Regions from separate parts of the Homo sapiens genome. Here all the other regions are reported to be linked to region 3. Evidence: microRNA targets listed by miRTarBase, many of them from high-throughput screens and not tested one by one. Region 3 holds a microRNA gene; each other region holds the end of a gene's coding sequence.

Region 1 (4,076 bases), not on the chromosome of region 3:
GAAGTTCAAGTTCATCATGAATGGCTCATATTGTCACAGAGCATTAGTGATCGGCTCTCCAGCTTTGCTCCTGTGTATTGACACTGCGGGGAGCCTATACCTCCCCTCCCTGTTAAAACCATTAAGGCAGCTTTCAGAGAGGAAAACATCTGGGCTTCCAAAATGCATTAAGAATTTGCATCTGCAGGAGCTCGGATTCCACGTTGCCAGCCTGAGAGTCTCTCTCTGGCCCAGGGAGCTGGTCTTGGAGGAGGGCTGGCGGGATCTGCATTAGCAAGAGCTGCTCTGAGTCTCCCCTGGTTTTCTTTTTCACAGCCAACGATGGGGATTACTGGCGCCTCCTGAACCCTGGAGAGTATGTGGTCACAGCAAAGGCCGAAGGTTTCACTGCATCCACCAAGAACTGTATGGTTGGCTATGACATGGGGGCCACAAGGTGTGACTTCACACTTAGCAAAACCAACATGGCCAGGATCCGAGAGATCATGGAGAAGTTTGGGAAGCAGCCCGTCAGCCTGCCAGCCAGGCGGCTGAAGCTGCGGGGGCAGAAGAGACGACAGCGTGGGTGACCCTCCTGGGCCCTTGAGACTCGTCTGGGACCCATGCAAATTAAACCAACCTGGTAGTAGCTCCATAGTGGACTCACTCACTGTTGTTTCCTCTGTAATTCAAGAAGTGCCTGGAAGAGAGGGTGCATTGTGAGGCAGGTCCCAAAAGGGAAGGCTGGAGGCTGAGGCTGTTTTCTTTTCTTTGTTCCCATTTATCCAAATAACTTGGACAGAGCAGCAGAGAAAAGCTGATGGGAGTGAGAGAACTCAGCAAGCCAACCTGGGAATCAGAGAGAGAAGGAGAAGGAGGGGAGCCTGTCCGTTCAGAGCCTCTGGCTGCATAGAAAAGGATTCTGGTGCTTCCCCTGTTTGCGTGGCAGCAAGGGTTCCACGTGCATTTGCAATTTGCACAGCTAAAATTGCAGCATTTCCCCAGCTGGGCTGTCCCAAATGTTACCATTTGAGATGCTCCCAGGCGTCCTAAGAGAATCCACCCTCTCTGGCCCTGGGACATTGCAAGCTGCTACAAATAAATTCTGTGTTCTTTTGACAATAGCGTCATTGCCAAGTGCACATCAGTGAGCCTCTTGAATCTGTTTAGTCTCCTTTTTCAACAAAGGAGTGTGTTCAGAAAAGGAGAGAGAGGCTGAGATCATTCAGGAGTTTGTTGGGCAGCAAGCATGGAGCTTCTTGCACAAATTCTGGGTCCATAAACAACCCCCAAAGTCCCTGCTGATCCAGTAGCCCTGGAGGTTCCCCAGGTAGGGAGAGCCAGAGGTGCCAGCCTTCCTGAAGGGCCAGAAAATTTAGCCTGGATCTCCTCTTTTACCTGCTAGGACTGGAAAGAGCCAGAAGTGGGGTGGCCTGAAGCCCTCTCTCTGCTTGAGGTATTGCCCCTGTGTGGAATTGAGTGCTCATGGGTTGGCCTCATATCAGCCTGGGAGTTATTTTTGATATGTAGAATGCCAGATCTTCCAGATTAGGCTAAATGTAATGAAAACCTCTTAGGATTATCTGTGGAGCATCAGTTTGGGAAGAATTATTGAATTATCTTGCAAGAAAAAAGTATGTCTCACTTTTTGTTAATGTTGCTGCCTCATTGACCTGGGAAAAATGAAAAAAAAAAATAAAGCAAATGGTAAGACCCTTCTGGTGTGTGTGACTTTTCTGGGTAGGCTTGCAGCCACCCCACTACCTCTTTCTGAGGTTGGTCAGCCTAGACAAGGTGCCTGCTTAGGGGTGGCCATCCTGCACCCCCACTAAGCTCAGCACTGATGCTGACAGCACTATGTTCTCTGCCTCTTTCCCAGGAGAGACACTTGTTTGGGACCCACTATTGGCTCTTGGAGATGCCAGTAAGCATCTTTAGAGAAAAGATTCTCATACAGCTTTTGCACAATCTATACTCAGGGTCAGCTAACTTTTCTTTAAAAGGGTCAGTAAATAGCTTAGGCTTTGCAAGCCATACAGTCTCTGTCATAACCACTCAGCTCTGCTATTGTAGCACAAAAGCAGACATACACAGTACAGAAATGAATGGGCCAGCACTTTGGGAGGCCGAGGTAGGCAGATTGCCTGAGGTCAGGAGTTTGAGACCAGCCTGGATAACATGATGAAACCCTGTCTCTACTAAATATACAAAAATTAGTTGGGCATGGTGGTACATGCCTGTAGTCCCAGCTACTCAGGTGGCTGAGGCAGGAGAATCGTTTCAACCCGGGAGGCATAGGTTGCAGTGAGCCAAGATTGCACCATTGCACCCCAGCCTGGATGACAGAGCAAGACTCTGTCAAAAAAAAAAAAAAAAAAAAAAAAGAAAAGAAAAGAAATGAATGGCCATGGCTGCATTCCAGTACATCTTTATTTACAAAAACAGGTGGCAGCTGGATTTGGCCTGCAAGCTAAGACATAGTCAGCTCCTGCTATAAGCCAGTGTTGGCCAATAGAACTTTCCGTGATGATGGAAATGTCCTATTGTGTGCTATCGAATGCCACAGTGCTGGCCACGTGTGGCTATTGAGTACTTTAAAGGTGGTCAGTGAAACTTAAAAACTGGGTTTCTTCTATTATAGAATGTTCATTTTAATTAAACTTTTAATAGACACTTGTGGCTAAAGGCTACATATTGGACCACACAGCTCTCAACTAAGCCCATGGTAGGAAAATCTGAGCCTCACAGCAGTAGATATGGAGGCAGTGCTATAAAGCATTTAAAACTATAAACCACCTTTGCAGTTCAGAAGGGGGAGTTGCAGGGGTGAAAGAGACGATGGTGCAAGTGACCCTTCTGGGCCCTTGAGACATGTCCTGGACCCACAATTTAAACCCGAGCAATCCCACATTTGCTTGGAAGATTGTGGATTTGTCCAGTCCCTGCCATGCTGACCCAGAAGCCAGGTCCTGGCCCTTGGTGCCGAGATGGCCCGGTCTTATTTCCAGTAGTCAGCTCTGGAACTTGCAGGGCTACTGCACACAGCCTACTGCATCCATGCCATTCTCAACCCTCCCTGCAGCCTTGTCACCAAACTGAGCCCGTTTGCAGGCACCTTGGGCTCGCAGGCAGGGGCTCTGCATTCAGGACTGGCCAGGGCTGTTTGGTGTGTGATCTCAGGTCAGGCATCCTCTCTAATCTCTCATCTACTCCTGCAAAGTAAAGCCCTCAGGCTTCATAGACTGTAAAGGTCAGGCTGGCTGTGGCGTCCGAAGATTTCTGGCAGAGAGCCGACATCCTGGATTCCTAAAGCTCTGTTCTGTTGGAGTCACTTCTCTCCTCAGCCCTTCCGTGACACAGCGACTCCTCACTGGACCTTCAAGCCCACATAACCTTCCTTAACCCGGAGCCCGGAACCTCCCTCCTACTTGCCTTCTCTCCTGCTTTTCAGCCGGAATTACCCTCCTAGATCTTTCCCTAGGTTCAGCTTGGGCCTCTGCATATATTATCTCTCCTCACAGCTGAAAACCCTCCTGCTTCTCTCCAGTCCTGTCTCAAATGCCACCTCCTCCAGGAAGCCTTCCCCCTCTCAGGACCATGGTGATTTCTCACTCCTTTGAACAAATCTGCAGAGCCCTCAGGGCCTCTCAGAGGAGTTGTGTTACTTCAGGTTCTCTCTGCTGTTGGTCTGGAAGCTCCCAAGGGCAGGACCTGCATCCTCCTCGGTTCCCACTCCTCCTGCGGGGCTGCTCCCCACTGCAGCAGTTGCACCATGAACACGTGTGAAGCCGAGCCAGCCTCTGCCATGTGCTGCCCTGTTTGTAGGATTCCCTTAACACGTTCAGAAAATGTGACTTGAGAAATTGAAAATCTATACTTTGAATGTATTTGGTGTCTTTTTACCTCTTGAAGAGTCTTCATTTTTATAAGTGAAACCTGGTACTTGACTGAGTTAGAAACATGTCCAGAGATTGACAGGCTGTTTGAGATGTTTTTCTGCAGGATAAAATCAACCAACGTGGTGCGTCTGCTTCTGGCGGAGTCTAGTGCCTGTTTACTGTCTTCATCCTCCCACGTGGGTCCCAGGAGGGCCGCAG
Region 2 (4,000 bases), not on the chromosome of region 3:
GCTAGTAGTAATGTTCCCCATGGGTATTATGTACCATCTGGGGACCCCCTGAGGGGATTCTTCTGGAACAGGAAGCGAGCACTAACACATCTCCTTGCACTTTCCCAGCTGTGCCAGGGCTGCTGTAGGTAATGTTGAGAGACCTGCTTCCCATGCAGGTGTGCCAGTGGCCCATTGGGTAAATGGGGGAGGTTTGTATTTGTAGGGTTCTTGCTTGCCTCTTGGAGGTAACCTCAGCATCCACAGACACCTGTGGTGTTGGGAGATAGCATCAGCCCCAGTTGCAGATGATCATTTTTTGAGGATATGGAGGCAGTTAACATTCTGGAGAAACATATAGACACTCTTGGGTGTTCGGGGATTATTAGCTTCTCTGACCATGTCTGTCCGTTTGGGGCAGATTACGGTAAGAGACGGTGTTGTGCGAGAGAAGAATAATAGTACAAGATGGACCCCTGAGGGAAAGACTATGTCCCAGAATACTGGGTTGACCTTCAGGAAGATAGGTGATTAGAGGATTCACAAGATTGTATGAAAACATTGTCTCTGTCCTTGGCTGGACATCTGATGTCTCCAGACACACCCTGTCCAATTCCAGGGCCAGGGAACAGCCAGTTCTGATTGGCTCCTCATGTTTCTTTACAGGTGGGGCCCTTGTTGAACACAATGATCAAGGGCCGATACAACTAGCCTGCCAGGGGTCAAGGCCTCCTGCCAGGTGACTGCTATCCCGTCCACACCGCTTCATTGATGAGGACAGGAGACTCCAAGCGCTAGTATTGCACGCTGCACTTAATGGACTGGACTCTTGCCATGGCCCAGGAGTCAGGTGTTTGGAGCGAGGCAGGGCAGTTGGCACTCCACTCCTATTTGGAGGGACTTCATACCCTTGCCTCTTGTGCCCCAGCACCTTCTCTCTCTGCCCCCCGCCTAAAGTCCTGCATTCAGTGTGTGGAGTCCCAGCTTTTGGTTGTCATCATGTCTGTGTGTATGTTAGTCTGTCAACTTCGGAATGTGTGCGTGTGTGTGCATGCACACGCATGTATGTATCTGTTCCCTGTTCCTTCTGGGTCAGGCTGTCACTTCCGGCTCTCAGCCCTATCTCCTGCAACCTCAGTGCCTCAGCCTGAGAGAGAGATGAGATGCTCTTGGACTCCCCACTGCATCTGGGCTGCAGGGCCAGAGCTAGTCTGACCATTAGGTCAGTCTGCCTCCTGACAGTTTTTGCGTAGTCAAGCTCTAGGCGGTATGGGAATGGCTACCGGGACTCTAATGGGGTGAAAGAGAGGGGAGGCTTGCCTTTGAGAGCCTATATAGCCTTCCTGTGAGAGAGGATTAGATAGGGTTCCAACTGGGCCTACAAGCTCAAGCCATACATAAAAGGACCTTGGGACATAAGAACCAATGATTGTGCATAAGTTCTAAATTAGAGACACATATAGTTTCTCTCTTTCAGCACCAGCTCTTGCCCCTATGCTGGGTACCAAGGGAGTTCTCCTAGCTGTGGCTTCTCTAGGTTCTAGGGGTGCAAGCCTCTGTGTGTTTGTTTGTGTGTGTCTGTGTGTGCGTATCCACACTAGGGGTGCAAGCCTCTGGGTGTGTGTGTGTGTGTGCGTGCGTGTGTGTGTGTGTGTCCGTGTGTGTGTGTGTGTGTGTCCACACTGGCCAGCCTCCCTACTTACCAAGGTTCTCCACTGCTTACCTTTTCCAGTGGGACAGTACAGTGTGAGCCCCCGGGAAGTACTGCCTGACCTATCCTAAGCTTTTACACTTGGATTTTAGCCATCATATGTTGGCCAGGTCTCACTGCAGCCTGCCCGAGGCTAACTGGCTAGAGCCTCCAGGCCCTATGATGCTCCCTGCCCAGGCCATATCCTTTATTCCTGCTGAGCTTCCTGGCTGAATAGATGAAATGGGGTCAAGCCCAGGCAGCTCATTCACTACCTGTGATCCACCTCAGGGCACGGGCAAACACATAGGCTTGCGTCTTAAAGCCAGCTCCTCTGCCAGACCCCGTTGTAATGTGCCACAACACCCTCAATAGTCAGGGCAACTGGTGGAGCATGGAAGTCGAATTTCCTTTTCTGTTAGGAGCTACTCCTGGGAACCCCTCTCAGGGCTGCAGCTTACAGGTGGGCAGCTGTGATTGCACAACTTGAAGGGCCATCATTCACATCTATTCAGTGGGAGTGGGGTCCCTGGGATTGGGCAGTGTGGTGGCCCTGTGTCTCCTCACCTCTGCTCCTGTCTTCATCACCTTCTCTCTGGAAGGGAAGAGGAGTTGGAAGGTCTCTGGTTTTCTTTTCTTTTTTTTTTTTTTTGCCAAAGGTTTACTTCCAGCATCTGAGCTCTGGCTCTCACCCCTGAAGCTCAGTTATAGTGCACTGATGAACTGAGAGGATGCGTGTGGATGTGTGTGCATGCCTGAGTGCGTTTTTTGGGGAGGGGTGTTTATTTTTAGTACCCCATTCTGGGGTTCTCTGATGCAGTGTGGATGTGAAGATATGGTACCTTCTCAAGTGTAGCTCTTTCAAATATAGTCAATGCTGGGAAATGTGATTGCAGTGATCTCTATCTCTCCACTTCTTTTGGGAAAGAGGAGCACAGGAGCGGAGGAAAAACTTGGCCACAGTCACACTTGGAAAGATAGTAGATTATTTTCGTTCTCCTCAGCAGGTCTGCTGTATTCCTCGCTCAGCGCTCAAAGATGTGGGTGATGTGTCAAGGAGGCATGCACTCAGCTGGTCCTTGCTGAGTTATTTGCTGACACAGGTCTCACTAAGGTGGCTGAGGGGTGGGAGGGAGAAGGCTAATCTTGGAACCTTCACAGGATTGGCCTTGATCCTTGGGTAACACAAGAGTGATTCCTGATTTTTAGACACCTAATATGTGCCTAGTGCTTTTCTCTTTGTTCCTCACTATCCTGCAAGGTAGGTATTCTCACTTACAGATGAATAAATGGGCTCAGAGAGATTAGGTGATTAGTGACAATCAGTTGTAACTTAGCACTGTTAGGCTGCAAACCCCTTGCTCCTTCCTTTCCACCAAACTATGTTGATTTTCCTTCCTTACCTCCCTCCTTGTACCACAGGTTCTGTCCTCAAGATATCACCCCACTGGGCAGTATCTGAAGGCAGACCCAGCCCAAGATGGTGCAGAATATACAGCTCAGGGTGAAAGTTCTTCTGGGCTCCTGCTAACAAAGTCTTGGAAAAACTGCCTGGGAAGCCATATTATGAATTAGTGCTAGAAGAAGCTGTGGGGGGAACTGAGTTCTGTGTCTAATTGCATTACTTATGTGTCCTTGAATAGGACCCATAACTCCTCCCGGCATGCTTTTGCATCTATAGAACTGAAGCTGTAGTTCTAGATGGCACTAAGGGTCTTGGTTCATATTCAGCTGCTGCTTCCCCCCAAGGAAAAGATGAGGTTTTTCCCCTTCGATTACCTTTTGAGGGATGTTTAGGCTCAAATTCTGCTTGCCACAGAGGAAACATTTCTGCTGTAGTTGTTTACCTCCATCCTAGCTGGCAGTGTGGGACACACACATACAGCAAGTGAAGGTGGGGGTTTGGGCCTGTATAGAGGTCAGCTACGCTGCAGGCTCATCTATTCACACCAGCAGGTACAGAGAAAACTAGTGTTTTGTAAAGTCAAATATTTGTTGGGGGTTGGAGTTCTGGGGTTGGAGGAGGGGCTGTTCTGGGCATCAGTTGAGCAGATGCCCAGGATGCCTGGGGGAGACCAGCTTCCCCTACAAATCAGAGCTCTAAATTACAAGGTTTTTACCAACGTGAACAGTTGGGGGAAGTCGTCTGCTCTCATTTGCGTAATGGTTTCTGTCACTGGTGATTAGACACAGGATGAAGGAAAAGAAATTTGACAATTAGGAATGAGCGATCATTAATCTGAATCTGTTAGGAGACAGAGAGGGGAAGGATCCTTATCAGTGGGCCAGCCCAGTATGGGGAGACACTCCCTCCCTCTGCCCCCAGAGACT
Region 3 (4,076 bases):
GCATAGCAGTGGCCGCAGGCCACCTGGGAGCAGCAGGCGGGGCCCCTGGTGAGGATGCCTTGTAACCTTGCGGCTTGGCTTCACCGCAGATCCACTCTGGAATGACACGGTTCCCACCCCGCCACCTTCCCCCTCAAAACACTGATCGGGCGACGATCCGCTGGGCCGGCAGCTGGAGCCCAGCCGTGGCCCTGCCTGAGCCAGTCCAGTTTGTAAAATAAATAGCAAGCGTTGCCGGCTTCTGTACCTCCTCCCTGTGCCTGCCGGCCCCGCCCAGCCACTCAGACACTTGTTTCCGGGGTGTGAACCACCTCCCCGTTTTTCTCAGGCTCAGCCTTCAGGAAATGCTCCACCTCCCGCAAGTCCACCCCCGAGTCTGCAGGAGGCTTGTGGAGCTTCTCCTCCTCCGCGGCCGCCACCTCAGGCTGTGGCTCTTTGGGCTTCTTCCTAATGCAGAAGAAGTTGCCCAGCAGCAAAATCAGGGAGGAGGTGAGCACCTCGGCCCCCGCCAGGATGAACACGTACATGTAGACGTGGGTCGCATCCAGGAGTTTGCCTGCGGGAAGACCCCGTCAGTCCCAGCCGCTCATGCGGGCTGCCCCCAGGGCCCACGGCTCCACCCAAGCCTGTGTCTCGGTGTCTCAGCACGCAAGGGTCACCCTGTCTGCCTCTGAGCTTGTGGGGCTGGGAGGTGTTCTCTCCCCTCCATGTGTTTCAGCTGGGGGCATCCTCCCTCCTCCTCAGGGGAACCAAGACTTAAGAGGCTAAAAATAGCAATGGCTTTGTGGAGTTTGGGTTTCGGTTGGTGGCAGGAGTCACGCTGGTCCCCACGGAGTCCCCCTGAGGCTTCCAGTCGGCAGCCCCAGAAGCCCTACTGTGTTCAGTACCAGCCCTGTGCCCTGGCCACCGCGGACTCCAAGACATGAGCCCTCCCCAAGCCCAGGACCCCCTCGCCAGGCAGGCGGAGCCTGGGCAAGGCTGCTCCAGTCAGAACTTAATTTCCCTCACGTGTTAGCTCAGTCATCCTTCAAAAAGGAGAGGCCCCAAAATGCAAAAGCCGGCTGTTGGGTTGCCTGGAGCTGCCGCGTGGTGCCCAGGCAGAGCCTGGAGGAGCTGCCCCCCCCCGGGCCCAGCCCCTAGCCACCCTGCCTGTCTGGACACACTGTGCCGGACGGAGCACCCCACTCCTAATGGAGACCCGCTAGCCCCAGCAGAATCAGGGTTGGTCCAGCACAGTGCACCCCCTCCAGCTCTGAGTCCCACACTGCGGGTGGCTGCCGAGGGGTGCGCGTCCCCCCCCTCGCAAAGCGGGCGTCTGACGGGAAGGGCAGGTGTGGGGAACTGCCTGGGGGCGCAGCGCTCACCTCCCGAAGGGGGCCCGACGAGCACGGCCACCGCCTCCATCAGCAGCACCAGGCCAATGGCACTGGAGAACTTGTGGGTGCCCACGATGGCCATGAGCACCTCGAACTGCAGGGCCCCCACCATGCCGTAGGAGATGCCAAAGAAGATGCAGAAGACCACGAGGCCGCCGTAGTCGCCCGCCGTAGAACCCGCCAGGTCCGCGAGGCCGTTGAAGAACATGGAGAAGCTGAAGAGGTAGACGGAGTAGGGCCGCACCTTCCCAAGCCCCGCCACGAAGCCCGCGGCCGGCCGCGCGAAGATGTCAATGAAGCCCAGGATGGTGAGCAGGAAGGCGGCCTTGGTGTCGGGCACGCCCAGGTCCTTGGCGTAGCTCACCACGAACACGGGCGGGACGAAGAGCCCCAGCACCATGACCGAGGCGGCCACGGCGTAAAGCACAAAGCCGCGGTCCCGGAAGACGCTCAGGTCTAGCAGGCGCCGGGAGGGTCGCGGCGGCCCCGAGCCCGGCTGGGCCGTGACCACCAGGGGCCTCATGAGTGCGGCACACACGCAGCAGTTGAGCAGCAGGCCGCCCAGGATGAGGAAGCCGCCCCGCCAGCCGTAGCGGTCCTGCAGCAGCTGCCCCAGCGGGCTCAGGGCACACAGGAAGACAGGGCTACCTGCTGCCGCCAGCCCGTTGGCCATGGGGCGCCGCTTGCTGAAGTAGCGGTTCAGCATGATGAGCGAGGGCTGGAAGTTGAGTGCCAAACCCAACCCTGGAGGAAAGGGAATGTGGTGAGAGCCCCCCAAGGCTGCCCCAAAGCCCGAGACCCTCATCTCTGCCCCCAGGTTCCCACAGGCTCAGGCTCCCAGGGTGCAGAGCCCCTGCCACCCACCCACTCGAGAGGGGGACAACGAGGTGGGGCCGGGACACCCCGCAGCCACCCGCCCTGCTGTCCTCCAGAGGCCTGGACCCAGGAGCAGAAGTGCACGGCCCCTGCCCCTCCTGGCACGTGCGGCCCACCGGCCGGCCCCACTCACCCGTGATGACCCCAGTGGTGAGGTAGACCTGGATGATGCTCCGGCAAAAGGACGCAGCCACCATGCCCAGCGACGCAAAGAGACCCCCCACAAGCATGACGGGCCGGCAGCCAAAGCGGTTCACGCACACACTGCAGAGCGGACCTGGAGAGGGCAGCAGCTGAGAGGGGCCGGGCCTGCAGCCAGCTCTACCCCCGCCAGCCGACTGAGCTCACAGCCTGGAGCCGGCCTCCCCTTCCCACACCACCCCTCCCCCCGCGGGGCACCAGGGGCACCCCGTGGGCAGGCTCCCCGAGCGCAGGCCATGATGACACGTGAGCGCCGCCTGCTGGGCCCCTTGGGTCCCTGCAGCTCAGGAACAGCCACCTTTTCAGGAACGGCTCTCAGGAGCCTGTCCTCTGAGACGGTCTATAAATACAGCCGACCCGTTTGGACAGGGGCCAGGATGGACTTCGCGCCCTGCCTGGGTTGGCCCCGTGGAGAGCATGTTGCTGCCCAGCAGGATCCTGGCCCCAAGGGCTTCCCTCCAGGGTTCCCTGGGGAGCAGGCGGAAGGCCCTGTTGCTGAGCCCAGCTACACGCGCCCAGCAGGATCCGCCAGCAGAGCCCCGGACAGGGGGCCCGGTGTGAGGCCACCCTCACCTGTCCCGTAGAGCATGGCCAGCAGGATGGAGGAGATCCAGGCTGTGTCGCTGTAGCCGATCCCAAACTCCTGTATGAGCTCCTTGAAGAAGACACTGACGGCCTTGGGGAAGGCGTAGGAGAAGCCAGTGATGACGAAACAGCCGAAGAGCACGGCCCAGCCCCAGCCGCCGTCAGGGGCCTTGACGCCTGTGGGGCCCTCGTCCACCACGGCCCCTCCCATGGCCAGGAGGGTTGGTTCCGCCTCACCTGAGAGAGAAAGCAGGCTGACTCAGGCTGCCCGGGTGACCATCCCAGCTGCAGCCTGGCAGGGGAGGGACACGAGCTGGGTGGCCCGGCAGCTCAGCTGAGGGGCAGCTGCCCGGCACCCACACTTGTGGCCCCCTGACCTGGTGTCTGGTGGAGGCAGGAGGGTTTGGAGGGAGGCTAGCAGCTGTGGGTCCCACTCCCTCTGCACTGCCTCCTGCACCCTCACAGCTGGCTCTAAAGGGCAGTGGCTTTTTTGGGCTCGGCCAGGACTCAGATTACCTCCTGGGACAAGCAGCCCCCGACAGGAACATCGACCTGGCCGTCATTTCTGCCCTGGCTCGCTCTGGCTGACCCGTGCTGGGCAGGGACCACGCACACCATGATTCTGGCAGCAGACGGCACCTCCGGTCCCCAGCACTGAGCTCGCCCCAGGACCTCTGGGGTTGGCATCCTCCAGGTCTCTCCCGGTCTAAATCTAGGTGGAGCGTGCCTTGCTCTGGCTCTCCTGCCCCCAAGGGCCCACTTTGGCTTCAGTGGAGCCCACCAGGAGCTTGCCCAAGAGGAGGCGGGCAGTCTCTGGCGGTGAGGGGCTGGGCCCCAGGCTGGAGGGGGCAGTTGGAAGCACAGGGGCTGCAGTATTAGAGTGGGTGGGGTGGGGAAGTGGGGGCAGAGCTGGCCCCTTGTCCCTGGATGCCCCCTTGCCTCCCACCGGCCCTCTTGCTCAGTGACTCCTCCAGTGAGATCTTGACTCACCCCACCTGTGCCTGGAGTGACCCATAGGCTGCAGCCTGAAATCAGGAG
Region 4 (4,076 bases), not on the chromosome of region 3:
TAGGCTTGACAAGGATAAAATGCATTCTTTTTTAATTAGCTTGAAAGAGAAAATTGATAGATAACAAGCAAAAACTCTTAGGGCTGTTCTTCAAAAGTCCATGTGGTAAGCAGAAAGGGACAAGAATGACTTAAAAATAGGAGCAGAAATCCATGATGGACTAGGGGAAGAATGGGTAAAGGAGAACTTCAATAACCCAGATATGTTCAAATCCACAGGTCCCAATGGCTGGCATCCTAGAGTACTTAATGAATTGGCCGAAGTCATCACAGAGCCGCTAGATATCATTTTTGAGACCTCGTGGAGGACTGATGAGGTGCCTGAAGACTGGAAAAGGGCATATTTAGAACCTTCTTTCAAAAAGGGAAATGGATGATGACCCTGGAAATACTCATCAGCTTAACTTTTTGCTTGGACAAATTCTGGAATAATCAACTTAGTAAACTGGGTAACTGGCTTATAACAGCTAGAAATAAGGCAGTGAACTATCACGCATAAAGAAGTATTGAGTTCATTTTTTTAAGAAGATATCATGATGAGATACAGTCTTATGCATTTCTTGGCATTCTCCCTTCCATTCTTAATGAAAACAGATGAGGTTGGCTAAGGCATTTGAGTCATAACTTAGTTTAAGTACAATATAACAAAAAGGTAGATTTCTGACAGTAAGTAGTAATTATATTATTTCCAAATTTGCTTTTAACTTGAGAACAGTAGCTTTAATTTTTATATTCAAGCATACATTCTACTTCATTTCATATAGGACCATGTTTTTATAAGATAAGATACATAATTCTATGTAGAATAGTTTGGTGAAGGAATTCTTATTTTAAGGTGCTTTTATATAGTTATTTTGTATATTGGTACAATGTTAAAGGTGATGAATTAAGGAACATCACCAAGAGAGGACAATTTCTTCTAACTTCTCTTTTTAAATTTAATCTGGCTGAGGTTTAGTATTAGGACTAATACAAGTGTCTTGCTCTGACATGCATCAAGCAAGAGCTAGCTATTTTACTTCATAGCTAGTTTCTTGCACTCTGTGGAGACTGCCAGGGCCGCAGCTCACAGCCTGTTCTGAGCTGCAGTGCTTTATCCCACCTTGCTCTCCAGGCTTCTGACTTCAGGCCTGTGGGGGCCGGGAGGTGGGCAGCGGCAGTGGCCTGAGGAGCCCTGTAGAACTACGGCTGAAAAAGAAAGTAGATTGAGGTGGGGGGAGGAAATTAACAGGAATCTAGAGTTTTTCTAATTCTTATCGTCTTATCGTTCTTGTGTTTGGATGCTGGTAGTTTTTTTTTTTTTAGACAGAGTCTCGCTCTGTCACCCAGGCTGGAGTGTAGTGGCACAATCTTGGCTCACAGTGACTTTCGCCTCCCAGGTTCAAGGAATTCTCCTGCCTCGGCCTCTTGGTAGCTGGGATTACAGGCACGCATCACCACACCCAGCTAATTTTTTTGTATTTTTAGTAGAGATGGGGTTTTACCATGTTGGCCAGGCTGTTCTTGAACTCCTGGCCTCAAATGATCCACTCGCCGTGGCCTCCAGTAGCGCTGGGATTACAGGCGTGAGCCATCACACCCGGCCTGGATGCTGGTAGTTTTATTTTCTGCTTAGAAAACGCAACCATGTTGATGGGACCAAAAACTTAGTTGAAAGAAGCCATGGCAAAAGATGTTGACGTACAACTGGCTCCTGAGGCTGTCAATTGTTTAGAGCTCCCAAGTAGTACTGCATTACGGAATCTACTACTTAGAAGAATGTACAAGATGTAAGTTCCCATCGGCACCGTCATGGTAAGAAGAATAAGAAACTCTCAAAGGAAAAGAAACTTACATTCACTTTTTCCTGGTCCATTTTGGTTCCTAAGAATAGATAGGCCATTAAGAAGGATATTAGGTTTCTAAGGACAATTTTAACACAATACTGCTTTAAAAATCTGAAGTTTAAATAGTTTAGCTATTTCTGTAGGTTAATTCAGGCACTGACTAAAATCAGTCTCATTATCATATACAAATGTAAGGAAGTTAAATTTTAAAAGCATGTATAGGTTGTCCTTAAATTATACAAAAGCTTTTAGTTTCATCAGGATTATATTCCAGTTAACCTTTCATCTTTTTTTTTTTTCCAAATGAACTAGGGTCTTTAAAATTCCTAAGTAGATTCTTTTGAGTGGTAGGGGAGTCTGTATAGATTACAGATATAATTTATTGTGATAACAAATGGCTTCCTGTTTGACCTCATTTCCAGGTGTCGCATCCGTGGCTGATTTATTTCACAGATGTACATTTGCATGTACTTGTTGAACTTTGCTAGGAAGGACTCAATTTTTGAAAAATCTGTTATTTTCACTGTGGGCCTTATGAGGCAATCTACTGCAATGGAAAAAGGGTTCCTTGGTCATTTCAAGTTTTATTTTCTATTAGAGTAATATCTAACTTCAATTATTTTGCCAGGTTTAAACCTTCTCTCTGTGTCTGTGGTTAGAATTTGAAAATAACAATGCTCTGCTTAAAGTAAGAGTCACAGTCAGCAAAAAAAGCCAATGGATTTTAAAAAGACATCTTAGTTAAAGCTAGAGGAAGAAAACTTCAAATAAGCAAAGAAGTATTGAAGGATGCCCACGAATTCCTTTGCATTAAAATCAAGATGAGGTAAGAGGTAGAATATAAGAGAAAGGGATTATTTTTACCATGAATTGTATCTGGGGACAGTTAGTCTTAGAAGGAGTAATTTTTTCAGCGTTTTTCCTCTGTATCTAAACACCAATAATATACTTAATTTTTGAATATAAAAGAAGTAGCAATTGACTAAGAATAAATATGTTATAAAAACTAGGGGATTATCTTGATTTACATTTCCTAGAGTATTAAAAGAGATTAATTACAGACTTTCACTTGATAATATTGAGGAGTCTGGAGGGTCATAGCAAAATTTTCTTTAGTTCATCTTAAAATTTAGGGAGGTAAAAAAAGATTTTATTCACATAAAAGATTTCTTGGCATAGGGAAGGCGTAATGTTAAGGGCTTCTTCCTTACCCAAGTGGGAGCTGAACCAGTAATTGTGGGGAAAACTGAATTTATAGCAACAAAGGATAGTAGTTTCTCAACTGGGAGCATACGAGCAATTTCTCAGTTCAGAGATATTTATAGCATCTTGGTGTTATGCAATAAACAATGACAACAACAAGCATTGAGCTTTCACTTTGGAGTTACTCAGATCTGAGTTTAAATTCTAAAATTATTCTAGTAGTATTTTCCTGCGGTGAATCTGTTAAGGATGTAAGCTATAGTGTAGCTTGGGGAATCATCTTGAACAGTTATGAAACTCATTAAAGCTTCTTTTCCCTTGTCTGTAAAATGGGAAAAATAAATACCTCTATAGCTCTTAAGAGGCTTAAGAGTTCTATGGCTTACACCCACATACAGTCCTTGGCTCAGTGCTAGGCATGTAGCAGGTGCTGACTGCCTCTCTCCCTTCCCTTCTTTACTCTCAGTTGTCTTATTTCTTCTTATGCAGAAGAGATTACCTTAAAGCTGACTAGAAAACTCAGACATAAATTGACATTTCCTTATCATTGCCTGAAACCCACTGAATAAGTCCCCTTTGATTTCTCTCAGGAAGGATAAAAAAGGCTACAGTACCTGCTCATAGGAGTTCAGTAAATGTTTATTGATTGAATGAAAAGAATTTGATTTAAGGAAACAATAACACTCCATCCTGGGCAACAGAGCAAGATCCCGTCTCAAAACAAAACAAAACAAAACAAAACAGCAAATTCATAAAGGCCAGCAGTTTTCAAGTCTGGGGAAATAGGCACATGGACAGATTATATGAAGGTATTTCATTAGCTTTCTTCTCTTTATGGCAGCTTCAGATTGATGAATTTGAGGTACAAATGAGTGAGTGACATATGTATATTTTCCTCTGATTTTATGACTGATTTACAAATTAGGAGTGCAAATGGGCTGTTCCCCGATAGCATCTTCTGGGAAGAATCCAACCAAGATACAAAGCAGATGATGGTGGATCGGCAAACTCTTTTCTATGAAAAGAAAAACCAGATATACCAGGGACT
Region 5 (4,076 bases), not on the chromosome of region 3:
AAAAGCAGTCATTTAGAAATTATTGTTATAATATTAGTAACTAATATATTAATGCAAGTGATTTCAAATAATAGATGTATCATTTTTCCATTTCCCTGAAATCTCTCCTTTGCCAGACATAAGGACTGTGTTAGTTATAAAATTAGCAGTAGAGGCCGGGCGCCGTGGCTCACGCCTGTAATCCCAACACATTGGGAGGCAGAGGCAGGCAGATCACTTGAGGTCAGGAGTTTGAGACTAGCCTGGTCAACATGGTGAAACCCTGTCTCTACTAAAAATACAAAAATTAGCTGGGCATGGTGGCGGGTGCCTGTCATCCCGGCTTCTCCGGAGGCTGAGGCAGGAGAATCACTTGAATGTGGGAGGCAGAGGTTGCAGTGAGCTGAGATGGCGCCACTGAACTCCAACCTGGGCAACAGAGTGAGACCCTGTCTAAAAAGAAAAAAATTAGTGGGAAAGAATTCAGTGTAACTGTGGAACTTGTTTCTGATTTAAAGCATTGATGTTAAATTTCTGTTATGAACGCTCACTAAAGATTTGGAGAATGGAAAGTATCACTAAAGGGTTAAAATCATGAAATCTTTTGCACACCAGGTATCTTTGCTGACTCAGAAGTTGAAAGAACACTGCAAAGTTGAATATCAAATTAAAACATTTTCTGGGCAGACTCATGGGTTCGTGCATCGGAAGAGAGAAGATTGCTCACCTGCAGACAAGCCCTACATTGACGAGGCCAGAAGGAATTTAATTGAGTGGCTGAACAAGTACATGTAGCAAGAATCAAGGGCAAGCCTTCCTAGAATAGCTTTCATCCCAAAATTTGCTTGGAAATAGTTAGATCATTTGATTTAATTTTCACTTTTATAAAATAAGTGTAGGAATCCTAAAATTGATTATTTCATTTGAAACACAAATTCAGTAGGACGTAATGCATGAAATAATTTAATTTTTGACATGTACATCGAATCATAATTTAAAAACAAGGTCTGACCAGGTGTAGTGCCTCATGCCTGTAATTCCAGCACTTTGGGAGGCCAAAGTGGGTGGATCACCTGAGGTCAGGAGTTTGAGACCAGCCTGGCCAACATGGTGAGACCCCATCTCTACAAAAAATACAAAAATTAGCCTGGTGTGGTGGTGCACGCCTGTAGTCCCAGCTACTTGGGAGGCTGAGGCACAAGAATCAATAGAACCCAGGAGGTGGAGACTGCAGTGAGCCAAGATTGTGCCACTACTGTACTCTAGCCTGGGCAGCAGAGTGAGACCCTGTCTCAAAAATAAATAAGTAAATAAATAAATAAATAAAATAAAAACCAGGTCAGTACCTGGAGAATTTGAATGATAGAGAATGATAGAGTAATACCCTAATTATTAGTTAAAACCTACAGGCCGGGTGCGGTGGCTCACGCCTGTAATCCCAGCACTTTGGGAGGCCGAGGTGGGTGGATCACTTGAGGTCAGGAGTTCAAGACCAGCCTGGCCAACATGGTGAAACCCCATCTCTACTAAAAATATAAAAATCAGCCGGGCATGGTGGCATGTGCCTGTAATCCCAGCTACTCAGGAGTCTGAGGAGGAGAATCACTTGAACCTGGAGGCAGAGGTTGCAGTGAGTCGAGGTTGCGCTACTGCACTCCAGCCTGGACAACAGAGGGAGACTCTGTCTCAAAAAAAAAAAAAAACCTACAGCTGTTCAAGGACCAGCTGACAGGTCAAGTGTGGCCTTTTCTGGTCTTTGAACACATCATAGAAAGTGACAAATGCTGCAAAGCCATGAAGAACATGAACTATAAACGGGTAGACTAACTGCCCAGCTTAGACACTTATCTATGCCACAAAACAGCTGAATTTGTCACATTTATATATTGCAATATGGGAAGTATTGAGATCAAAACAGGATTCCATTGACCTAATTATATTAAGCTAATAAACTAATTTTTTGAATTTTTGAATTTGCAGCTTTTTTAAAAAGATAGCAGAGAACGGTGGGCTAGAGTTGTCACCCAGCTGTTGTCTCCTAAGCAGTGGATTTCCAAGCACTGGCATTTTTGGGTCCCAGGGCCTGAGGCTACCTCAGAAATATCTCCTGTGTTTCTGGTGGTGGCGTAAAGGGGAGAGCCGGTGAGAAACTCTGCACCTGCACCTACGGGGTGCGTACATGTGACTTTGGGCAAGTGACTTGATGTTGTAGTTTTTTTCCTAATTTTGTCTTGACGTCCTTCTCAGGAGAGAGTGGCTGTAAACTCTAGCCCTGCCCTGACGGGGATCCTGGGGATGTGGTCGTGGGTGTTTCCCATGTGCCTTTCATGGGATCCTTCTTTGACCTCACAGACGGCCTGATTCCTGAGTGTCCAACCTGTGGCCAGGTGTCCCTCTCGCAGGAAGCTTGTTTATCCTGGCACATGACCTTGTGGCTCTCATCTGACCTGTGTCCAGTTTATTCCTACTGAGACAGCCACTCTCCCGGAGAGCCCTGACCGGGAAAGAAGTTAGGATGGGGTAGAGGAGGCAACTCATCAGAACCCAAGAAATGACAGAAGCAGTTTATTGCTTACAGATCCAGAGAACAGAGGGCAGCACGCTTCACAGGGCCAGCAAAAAGGGGGAGCCATTCAGGACACATGGGCTCAACCAGAAGGTGGAGAACGAGAGAGAGAGGGAGCTATGAGCCAAAGCCTTCACTGGGGCCCAGGGTGTCATCTATGCAGGTTTCCCCTGGAGGTTCTAACTGGGGGGTTTAGAGCAAGCAGGCATGAGCCCCGGGGACTCACGCTGTGACTGAGAGGGGTCGGTGTGGGTAGGATATCGGCATGGTCCATGTGGGTGTGGGGGTCAGTGGGACAAGTCAAGCAGGTGGTATCCAGCTGTCCATGGGAAGGTGGTCCCAGGAGGCGGTTTTGTAAGGCAGATGTCTGGATCGACCACCTTGGGGAACAGTGAGAAGTTGTATAACTGGAAACTGTGTTACTAATCCCTGCTTCTAGTATGAGAAAGTCCAACTTACATTCAAATAGATGCTCAGGAAACATAAAATTCAAAGAATTCCCAAACTTGAGCTTCCTGAGCCTCAGTTTTTGCATCTGTCAAATGGGTATGGGGAGACCCTTTGCCTAATGTTGAGAGAATCCAAGCCTGAGCAGGGCTGGTCTACTGTGGACACTTAGTTGTGGACCCCAACAGGCCAAAGCCCTTGCCTGCTGAGGGCTGCTCCCAGGAGGCCTCACACATTCATCCGGCCTCCCAGGAAACCCCTGAGATGTGCTGGGCTTTTGCCGTGGAACGGTGTCGGTGAGCATGTGGCCAGTAGCCAGAGTCTTCAACATAGGTGGGAGGTCTGAAATTCGTGCGAGAATGAACCAAGGGTGTGGCTGTATCCTTCATGGTGAGCTTGGGGCCTGGGCAGCCTTCCCTCTGCTGAGTCCTTTGGTCAAATGTCATGGTGTTCTGAACCAGCACTGCAGATAGAAGTATAATGTAAGTCACACACGTACTTCTTTAAAAAGATATGTTCTTCAGTGACTATTAGACAAACAGATAAATGAAGGTAAAGGGAAAAAATGGCAACTTTAGCTTTTTTCCCCATGTATGTAATTTTAAATTTTCTTATAGCCCCATTAAAAAAAGGAAAGAGACACAAGTGAAATTAATTTTAATAATGCATTTTAGCCCAATTTATCACAAATGTTCCATCAGTGTGTAATCAATGTAACGAATCATGAGTGAGATATTTTGTATTTTTTTTTTTTTGTTCCTCTATCTTTGACATCTGGTGTGTATTTTCTGCTTACACATATCTCCATTTGGATGCTAACTTTTCATCAGAAGTACTTGATTTGGCCAGGCACAGTGGCTCATGCCTGTAATCCCAGCACTTTGGGAGTCTGAGGTGGACTGATCATTTGAGGTCAGAAGTTCAAGATCAGCCTGGCCAACATGGTGAAACCCCATCTCCACTAAAAATTCAAAAATTAGCTAGGCATGGTGGTGGGCACCTGTAATCCCAGCTACTTGGGAAGCTGAGGCAGGAGAATCACTTAAACCCGGAGGTGGAGGTTGCAGTGAGCTGAGATGGTGCC
Region 6 (4,076 bases), not on the chromosome of region 3:
AGTGGCGTGATCTCAGCTCACTGAAACCTCTACCTCCTGGTTTCAAGTGATTCTTGTGTCTCAGTCTCCAGAGTAGCTAGGATTACAGGCGTGCACCACCATGCCCAGCCAATTTTTGTGTTTTTAGTAGAGACAGGGTTTCGCCATGCTGATCTCAAACTCCTGACCTCAGGTGATCCACCTGCCTCGGCCTCCCAAAGTATTGGGATCACAGGTGTGAGCCACTGCACTCGGCCAATTTTCCTGTCCCTTTAAACAAAAAGTTTGCTGACCTCTGCTCTAGACCATATTGGGAAGTAATGGGCAGTTACCCTCCTGTCATAGATCACTCACTGTTTCTGGTTCGTTCTGTTTGGTGGTATGTATTAGCTGTTATTAACTTGCTGGCCTAGAATTATTCCTGTCAGTTCTGCTTAAAGTTCTGTTTGGGAGATATCCTGGTATCACACCTTAGAGCCAGTGCATGCTCTATGAGGATGCATTCTCTATTGTTTTTCTGTTCCATGTCATAATTTTTGATGTGACAATTCTCAGGGTTATTTAAGTGTACAATACTCCCAGCTTCTCAGGCCAGGATCTTCACATAGACTAATATTTTTCTGTTTCAGCATGACACATGTCCTGTATGTAGGAAGAGCTTAAATGGTGAGGACTCTACTCGGCAAAGCCAGAGCACTGAGGCCTCTGCAAGCAACAGATTTAGCAATGACAGTCAGCTACATGACCGATGGACTTTCTGAAGCTAAAGACCACACCTGAATCAGGGCTGTGGTAATCATCTTACCATAGCTGTAAATTGTATCAAAACAAAAAATTAGTAGATGGATTTAGGAATATGTAAGAAACTCAACACATAATATAAATGCAATGAATGTTTTTCTTCTTTAAATTTAAAGTTAGTATCTACAGATGGAATTGTATCTACAACCAAATGCCTCTTATCCCTGAATTCAGAGTGATAATTTTATAAGTGTGAAACTTAATTATGTAGGGCTCCCCCCGTCTGAATAGAATTAATTCCTTAAAGTCTAGTTAGGGTCCTGCTGTCTGTCATGTTGCCTTGTAACGGATGTTTCCACCTCCTTCTCCAACCTCTACCCCACCATTAGTGTATTTTACTATAAAAACAGTGGAACCACAGCCCTAAAGTCCTGCTGATATAAAGTCCTTTTGTCTTAATTGTATTTAAAAAAAAAAAAAACTACTCTTGATCACATTAGCTATGAGGCGAGGTCAAATTCAGGTATCTAAGACTAATGATTTTGTTTTGTCTTGATCCCCAGAGAGCAAATCAAAGAAAAATTACAGCAAGAAGAGAAAAGTGGTTTATCATTGTGTGCTTTGGTTTTCTTATTTTAATTTTTTTTGTTTTTTTTTTTTGAGATGGAGTCTCGCTCTGTCGCCTAGGCTGAAGTGCAGTGGCACGATCTTGGCTCATTGCAAACTCTGCCTCCTGAGTTCAAGCGATTCTCCTACCTCAGCCTCCGGAGTAGCTGGGACCACAGGCATTTGTTACCATGCCCAGCTAATTTTTTGTATATTTAGTAGAGATGGGGTTTCACCGTGTTAGCCAGGATGGTCTCAATCTCCTGACCTTGTGCTCCGCCTGCCTCAGCCTCCCAAAGTGCTGGGATTACAGGCGTGAGCCACTGCGCCTGGCCTCTTATTTTAATTTTTAAAGACTACTTCAGTTGATGCAGTTTCCCAAGAAACCTACATAACATATATTGGGAGCCTTATGTTGATAGGAATCTGATTCCCATTCCTTTTTGGGAATGAGTTGGGCAGCATACAGGCACAGAAAGACAGATGTTTGAGACCTTTGCTTCTGAGATTTTAAAAAATGATTACCGCTGGGCGCGGTGGCTCACGCCTGTAATCCCAGCACTTTGGGAGGCCGAGGCAGGCGGATCACAAGGTCAAGAGATCAAGACCAGCCTGGCCAACAAGGTAAAACCTTGTCTCTACTAAAAATATAAAATTAGCTGGGCGTGGTGGTGCATGCCTGTAATCCCAGCTACTCATGAGGCTGAGGTGGGAGAATCGCTTGAACCCAGGAGGTGGAGGTTGCGGTGAGCCGGATCATACCAATGCACTCCAGTCTGGGCAACAAGAGCGAAACTCCATCTCAAAAAAAAAAAAAAAATCCCCAACTCACTGCTTTTTTTGTTTGTTTCTGTCGCCTAGGCTGGAGTGCAGTGGCACGATCTCAGCTCACCACAGCCTCGACCTCCCAGGCTCAAGTGATCCTCCCACCTCAGCCTACCAAGTGGCTGGGACTACAGGCGTGTGCCACCATGCCTGGGTAATTTTTGTATTTTTGTAGAGATAGGGTTTTGCCGTGTTGCCCAGGCTGGTCTCAAACTCCTGGGCTCAAGTGATCTGCCTGCCTCAACCTCTCAAAGTGCTCAACTCATTGTTTACTGTCTTTTTTCCTAGTAATCTTAAAATAATTTGCCTCACAGAAATAGAGACAGTAAGTGTCTGCAGCCAGTTCACTGTTTTTGGTAATTCATTGGTCTTCAGGAGTTAAGATTTTACATTGTCACATTTTAATTTTTAAGCCTATTTTTCATCTCTGAAACTTTCCTTTTCTCCTTGGTTCTGGCTATACTTGGACTCAAACTGATCAGTGTGATCATGTCCAAAACAGCTTGGCCTGGAAGAGGTAGGCCTTATTTTTTCAGCCTAGTAGTGTCCCATGCACATGCTCTTTGTAGCATTCAAGTGTTTAACATTGGATAAATTAAGAAGGTCAAGAATGTTGTTGAAACTTCAAGGTCTCAAAAGGAAATGATGGGGACATAGAACAACTGTTGGTGTACCAAAAAAAGGTACAGAGGGGCACCATTTGTATTGTCACACAACAATGATCAGAATGATCAGTTTAGAATGATCAGAACAAAAACACCACTCTTTAATGGGTCTTTTTCTTGGCTAGAAGTCTTTCCTCAGTTTTTGTTGACTATCATACGCTGATTTGTGGGTGACGGAAGGGGGCTAGAGATAACGTTTCTCTGTACTTTGGTAAAGGATGAAGGAGTCAGAGAGGGAACAGAAAAAGTGAGAGAGTGGCCTGCTGAAATAATAGCCTGCCTCTAAAAGTTGTGACCAGAAAGTATGATTCATTTGGGCCCAGAGGGAATAAAATATGTTTTTTCATATACCTCCCATATTACACCTCTGTAGTGATTGTTTATTTGGGGAATGAGATCTACTTACTGTGCGTTGCCCCTGAAATGTAGCTTGAGAATACACACTGGTTTTGAATTGGGGAGGAGGATGGAAGGAAATTAGAGGTGTATTATGAATATTTGGCCACTACTTAGATGGAGGAAGGCTATGTTGAACTTGGGACACATTGCAGTTTTCAAGTACACAATATCAGTTGTCTCAGAAAAATCATGACAGCCTGGACATATTTGCTTGTCAGTGTCTGGAGATGCCAGGACAGGCAGTTGTAGTTTTACGTACAGATAGAGAACCAATGCCTAGAGAACTAGAAAGGATCTGAGTACCTTTAAAAAGGGTGGAAACAAAGTACTGGATAGGGGTCTGCCTTTTTATACACAGTATAGCAAACAGCATCAGACAAAGTTACATGAAGTTTTCTTCACTTTTTTTGCTCTGGTGGATAGAGGATGTGAGACTCATTTTACTGTTTCCCAGACCTGTCCCACTTAATGGATCTGTTGTGTTTCTTCTTATAATGGCAGGCACCTCAGATGTCCAGGTTAATTTATGTTGAGGAGTTAGGATTCTTCAGGGATTTATTATTATTATTATTATTATTTATTTATTTATTTATTTATTTATTTATTTTTTGAGATGGAGGCTTGCTCTGTCGCCTAGGCTGGAGTGCAGTGGTGCAATCTCAGCTCACTGCAACCTCCACCTCCTGGGTTCCAGCGATTCTTCTGCCTTAGCCTCCCAAGCAGCTGGGATTACAGGCACCTGCCACCATGCCCAGCTAATTTTTTATATGTTTAGTAGAGACAAGGTTTTACCTTGTTGGCCAGGCTGGTCTTGAACTCTAGACCTCAGGTGATCTGCCAGTCGTGGCCTCCCAAAGTGCT
Region 7 (4,071 bases), not on the chromosome of region 3:
TCGCTCATGGTCTTCGCCGACCCCCGCAGCCCGCCCTGGTACGCGCGCGCCTGGGTCTTCTGGCTCGTGTCGGCGGCCACGCTGTCGTGGCCCCTGCGCGTCGTGGCCGCCTATGGCACGGCTCACGTGCACTACCAGGTGGAGAAGCTCTTTGGCGCCAGCTCGCCCCCGCCGGGGGCCGTGCCCAGCGGGCCCCCGCTGTCCCGCGTGGCCACAGTGGACTTCACTGAGCTCGAGTGGCACATCTGCTCCAACCGGCAGCTGGTGCCCAGCTACTCGGAGGCCGTGGTCATGGGCGCGGGCTCGGGCGCCTACCTCAGAGGCTGCCAGCGCTGCCGCCGCTCTGTCAGCAGCAACTCGCTGCCCCCCGCCCGGCCCAGCGGGCCCCGCCTGCCCTTCAGCCGCAGCCGCCTCTCGCTGGGCGCTGGCGGCCGGGCCACGCCAGGGGTCTTCCGCAGCCTGAGCGGGGGGCCGCTGGGGCGCCGTGGAGAGGACACGGAACCCCTGGAGAGCCCGCCCTGCTATGAGGACGCCCTCTACTTCCCGGTGCTCATTGTCCACGGAGACAGCGGCTGCCAGGGGGATGGGCAGGGTGCTCTCTGAGACCCCCCACGGCCCCCAGAGTGGCCCCCTCCCCACCATTCCACCATGGGCTTAGATGCCCGAGTGATTGTTGTCCAAAACAGGCGGGAAAACAGACCAGCCACACACAAGGGGCAGGGGTGAGGGTGGGGGTGGGGGTCCTTAAACAGACTAAAATGCAGTTACCTGTGGTCATTTTGGAGGAAGTGGAAGCCTAAGAATCGCCCCCAGCATGGCTTCATCCCCCAAGATGGCCGATGATCTGGCCTGAAGGCCTCTCACAAAGGGCAGGAGAAGAAGCTTCCAGAAAGGCTGGGATGGAGGAGGAGTCCTGCGGCCAGCTGTTGCCTGCAGCAGAGGCTGCCTGTGGACACTTCCCTACCGGGGCTGAGGCCATGCTGGGAGCCCCCCCAGTGACGCAGAAGCACAAATTGGAGGCTTGGGGCCATGCCCAGCCAGGTTGGCTTCCCTGGGGCTGAAGAGCTGGCTGTGGTGGCACCATGGCCTTGGCCCTGCTACTCACCCAACATTCCCATCCTCCCCTGATAGGCCCCTCCTCCTTGCCTGCCCTCTCTCCCGCTGCTCAGGGCCAGTCACTCCCCCCACATGCAGCTACCCCTACAACCTGGGGTTCCTTCTCAGGGCCTCACCTGGTCCCCACATCCCCTGGCCTCTGCTCCTGCCTCCCAAAGTCCATGTCTGCCTCCATCAGCCACACACACGCAGGGACGCCCGTTCCTTGCCCTCCCGGACTTATCTACTCTTCACTTTCCTGATGATCCATGGGGCCCAGGCCTAGAGGGCATCCGAGGGGCTGGGCCTTGGCCACAGCCTCTTGGATGATGTCCTTGCTCCACCACGCAGGCCCTTGCTTCTCCCATCAACGAGTCTTGGCCCAGGGGACACTGACCCTCCCCCAGGGAGGAGAGAGGAGTTCCTTCCCTTTCAACGAGGGCTTCCACGCCCTCTAAGGGGTGGCGGGGAAGGGAGGAGGCTGAGAAGATGCAGATTAAATAAAGGTATGGAATGGAAGGCCTGTGCATTCCTGGGTCATGGGTCTAAGGCCTCCACTGCAAGCATTATGGGCCCCCATGGTTCAGGGCACGATGAGGGGTTCTGGGAAGGGACTCAGAATTGGGCTCCAGTGTTCCCAGGAACCAAGTAAGCAGAGGAGAGGAAACCTCCCCTGCCTAGCCTGGGGCCTCTGAGACTCAAGTGTGAGGCGCTCTGAGCACCTGGCTCCCCTGACTCCGGTATCTGGGCCTGGGTCACTGCTAAGGCATTGTCAAGGTGGCCCTTGTTCCAGCTCAGTGGGACATTCCACTCTGCTGCTGGGCATGCCGAGGGCTAAGGGAGTGGTGGCCGGTCCCCAAAGTGGGGAGAAAGAGCTATGGTCTGTGACTCGAATTCGGTGCCCCCCCAGCGGCTACTGACATTATCAATCTGAGGGAAAGGGCATGAAGCAGGTCAGAAGACACAAAGCTGGAAAGGGCAGCCCCAAACCAGGGCAGGCTGGCATGGAATCCAAAGGCAGAGAAAACATCAGGGAAAAGGAAGGTCCTGACTCCCTGATGGAGCTCTGAAAGATTCCTGGACGTGGCATTGTCACATGTGCAGCAGTAAAGGGTGTTCACTGTGCAAGGGCAGTGGGCTAAGGGGCAAGCGTGCATGGAATCCAGCCTACAGGCCACTCCCCAAACTCTGGCATGGAGCTACATCCACTTGGAGAAAGGGGACCGTTTTCCTTTTCACGCAAAGGTGGCTTAAGGGCTAGTGGTGGCCCGGGAAGTGTGCTGAGAATGGGTGGATTTCACTAAGCAAAGACATGGCAAGCAATGTCTTGGACAGCCGATGCTGCCCAGACAAAGGCCTGGTTGTCGGGCATGAGCTGAGGTGTGACAAGGAGATAGAAGCAAGAAGCCATGGAAGGCTTTGCTGCAGCTTCCATGCCAAACCCTAGAATTTGTCCTTAAACTGGAGCAAACTGGGCAATCTGGAACCATGGAAGGGGGTTGGGCAGGGACGTGATACAGTCAAGGCTGCATTTTAGGATATTTAGCAAAAGTCCAGCGACCTGCTGGCTCTGTCGGGAGGGTGGAGTGAAAGACCAGAGTTCTCCCTGTGCGTTAACCCACAGCCTCTCTTCTTTGGGTGTGAAATCAGTTCCTCGTTCAGAAGCAAATTAGGTGGAAAACCCTGTGGTGCCCAAACATTCAACAAGGCTGCAGGGGGTGGCCAGGCACAGTGGCTCATGCCTGTAATTCCAGCACTTTCGGAGGCCGGGGCAGACAGATCATTTGAGGTCAGGAGTTTGAGATCAGCCTGGCCAACATGGTGAGACACCCCCCACCCCCGTCTTTACAAAAAATACAAAAATTAGCTGGGTGTGGTGGCGGGCACCTGTGACAGCTACTCAGGAGGCTGAGGCAGGAGAATCGCTTGAACCCGAGAGGCAGAGGATGCAGTGAGCTGAAATTGCGCCACTGCACTCCACCTGAGACTGTCAAAAAAAAAAAAAAAAAAAAAGGCTCCAGCAGGTAGGGAGGCCAGCATGCTGGTTTCAGCTCCTTGCCATGGGAAAGACCCTTTTTCCACCATTCTGCTCTAACACCATAGCCAACAACTGCCCACTGGCCACTCACTGTCCATTCTCCTCCCTTCCCCAATAACAGAACCCCAGTTTTGCTGCAGAAGGCAATGTGCCCAGCTAAAGGGCAACATTTCCAGCCTCCCTGGCATATATGGTATGACTGTGTGGCTGAATTCTAGGATATTAGATATAAACAGAAGGTGCTGGAAGGGATCTCCAAGAATGCCCCTTGAATAGAAGCAGTATTGATGAAGGCCATTTTTGTCCTCTCTGCTTCAGCCTGCATTCAGCCTTGGATGCATATGTGATAGCTGGAACGCCAGCAGCCATCTTGGAGCAGGAAATGACCTTGAAAATTGTAGCCACAGGCTGGGCGCGGTGGCTCATGTCTGTAATCCCAGCACTTTGGGAGGCCAAGGCGGGCGGATCTCGAGGTCAGGAGATCGAGACCATCCTGGCTAACACGGTGAAACCCTGTCTCTACTAAAAATACAAAAAATTAGCCAGGCGAGGTGGCAGGCGCCTGTAGTCCCAGCTACTTGGGAGGCTGAGGCAGGAGAATGGCATGAACCCGGGAGGCGGAGCTTGCAGTGAGCCGAGACTGCGCCACTGCACTCCAGCCTGGGCGACAGAGCAAGACTCCGTCTCAAAAAAAGAAAAGAAAAAGAAAATTGTAGCCACATGCTGAAGACAGCAGAGCAACAAGGGAAAAGATCCTGGGCTTCTGATGACACCATGCAAGTTTCCATGTCATCCCTTGGGTCGCCTACCTCCAGACTTCAATGAGAAAGAGAAATAAACTGTAAGTCTGCTTAAGCCCATTGCTTTTTTTTTTTGTCTCTGTTACCAGCAGCTTTTACCAATTATCTACTGCCACATAACAAATTATCCTAACCCTA

The links. Region 3 holds the annotated microRNA hsa-miR-6787-3p (UCUCAGCUGCUGCCCUCUCCAG, at 2,530-2,551, opposite strand). A microRNA usually pairs through its seed, bases 2 to 8, with sites in the 3' UTR of a target mRNA and lowers its output. Matches are read on the target gene's strand: a 7mer-m8 pairs with bases 2 to 8, a 7mer-A1 pairs with bases 2 to 7 and ends in A, and an 8mer does both.
Region 1: the mRNA of CPXM2 is a reported target of hsa-miR-6787-3p. Seed matches in the 3' UTR shown: 7mer-A1 at 1,194-1,200.
Region 2: the mRNA of HIF1AN is a reported target of hsa-miR-6787-3p. The part of its 3' UTR that is shown has no 7-base or 8-base seed match.
Region 4: miRTarBase lists SAMD5 as a target of hsa-miR-6787-3p. The part of its 3' UTR that is shown has no 7-base or 8-base seed match.
Region 5: the mRNA of CMBL is a reported target of hsa-miR-6787-3p. The part of its 3' UTR that is shown has no 7-base or 8-base seed match.
Region 6: miRTarBase lists RNF115 as a target of hsa-miR-6787-3p. The part of its 3' UTR that is shown has no 7-base or 8-base seed match.
Region 7: the mRNA of TMEM151A is a reported target of hsa-miR-6787-3p. Seed matches in the 3' UTR shown: 7mer-A1 at 1,576-1,582.

The regions. Positions count from the first base shown.
Region 1 is chr10:123,743,257-123,747,332 of GRCh38, reverse strand. CPXM2 (carboxypeptidase X, M14 family member 2) reads left to right here. Exons shown (of 14, transcript NM_198148.3): 14 at 316-1,694. The coding sequence ends at 569. Among named protein-coding and RNA genes, the nearest start is that of CPXM2-AS1, 31 kb to the left of the region's middle. RefSeq lists an enhancer at 1-200.
Region 2 is chr10:100,547,448-100,551,447 of GRCh38, forward strand. HIF1AN (hypoxia inducible factor 1 subunit alpha inhibitor) reads left to right here. Exons shown (of 8, transcript NM_017902.3): 8 at 646-4,000. The coding sequence ends at 690. Among named protein-coding and RNA genes, the nearest start is that of HIF1AN, 14 kb to the left of the region's middle.
Region 3 is chr17:82,235,182-82,239,257 of GRCh38, reverse strand. It overlaps MIR6787 (microRNA 6787), which reads right to left and starts at 2,590; the gene lies at 2,530-2,590. SLC16A3 (solute carrier family 16 member 3) reads right to left here. Exons shown (of 5, transcript NM_004207.4): 2 at 3,027-3,275; 3 at 2,386-2,529; 4 at 1,365-2,120; 5 at 1-556. The coding sequence starts at 3,249. The coding sequence ends at 282. It also overlaps a transcript of CSNK1D not described here. RefSeq lists enhancers at 1-457, 1,228-1,999, 2,824-3,013.
Region 4 is chr6:147,564,176-147,568,251 of GRCh38, forward strand. It overlaps SAMD5 (sterile alpha motif domain containing 5), which reads left to right. Exons shown (of 2, transcript NM_001030060.3): 2 at 219-4,076. The coding sequence ends at 281. Among named protein-coding and RNA genes, the nearest start is that of SAMD5, 58 kb to the left of the region's middle.
Region 5 is chr5:10,277,151-10,281,226 of GRCh38, reverse strand. CMBL (carboxymethylenebutenolidase homolog) reads left to right here. Exons shown (of 6, transcript NM_138809.4): 6 at 595-3,632. The coding sequence ends at 774. Among named protein-coding and RNA genes, the nearest start is that of CMBL, 29 kb to the left of the region's middle.
Region 6 is chr1:145,743,530-145,747,605 of GRCh38, reverse strand. RNF115 (ring finger protein 115) reads left to right here. Exons shown (of 9, transcript NM_014455.4): 9 at 609-4,076. The coding sequence ends at 740. Among named protein-coding and RNA genes, the nearest start is that of CD160, 26 kb to the right of the region's middle.
Region 7 is chr11:66,295,051-66,299,121 of GRCh38, forward strand. TMEM151A (transmembrane protein 151A) reads left to right here. Exons shown (of 2, transcript NM_153266.4): 2 at 1-1,614. The coding sequence ends at 603. Among named protein-coding and RNA genes, the nearest start is that of TMEM151A, 5.2 kb to the left of the region's middle.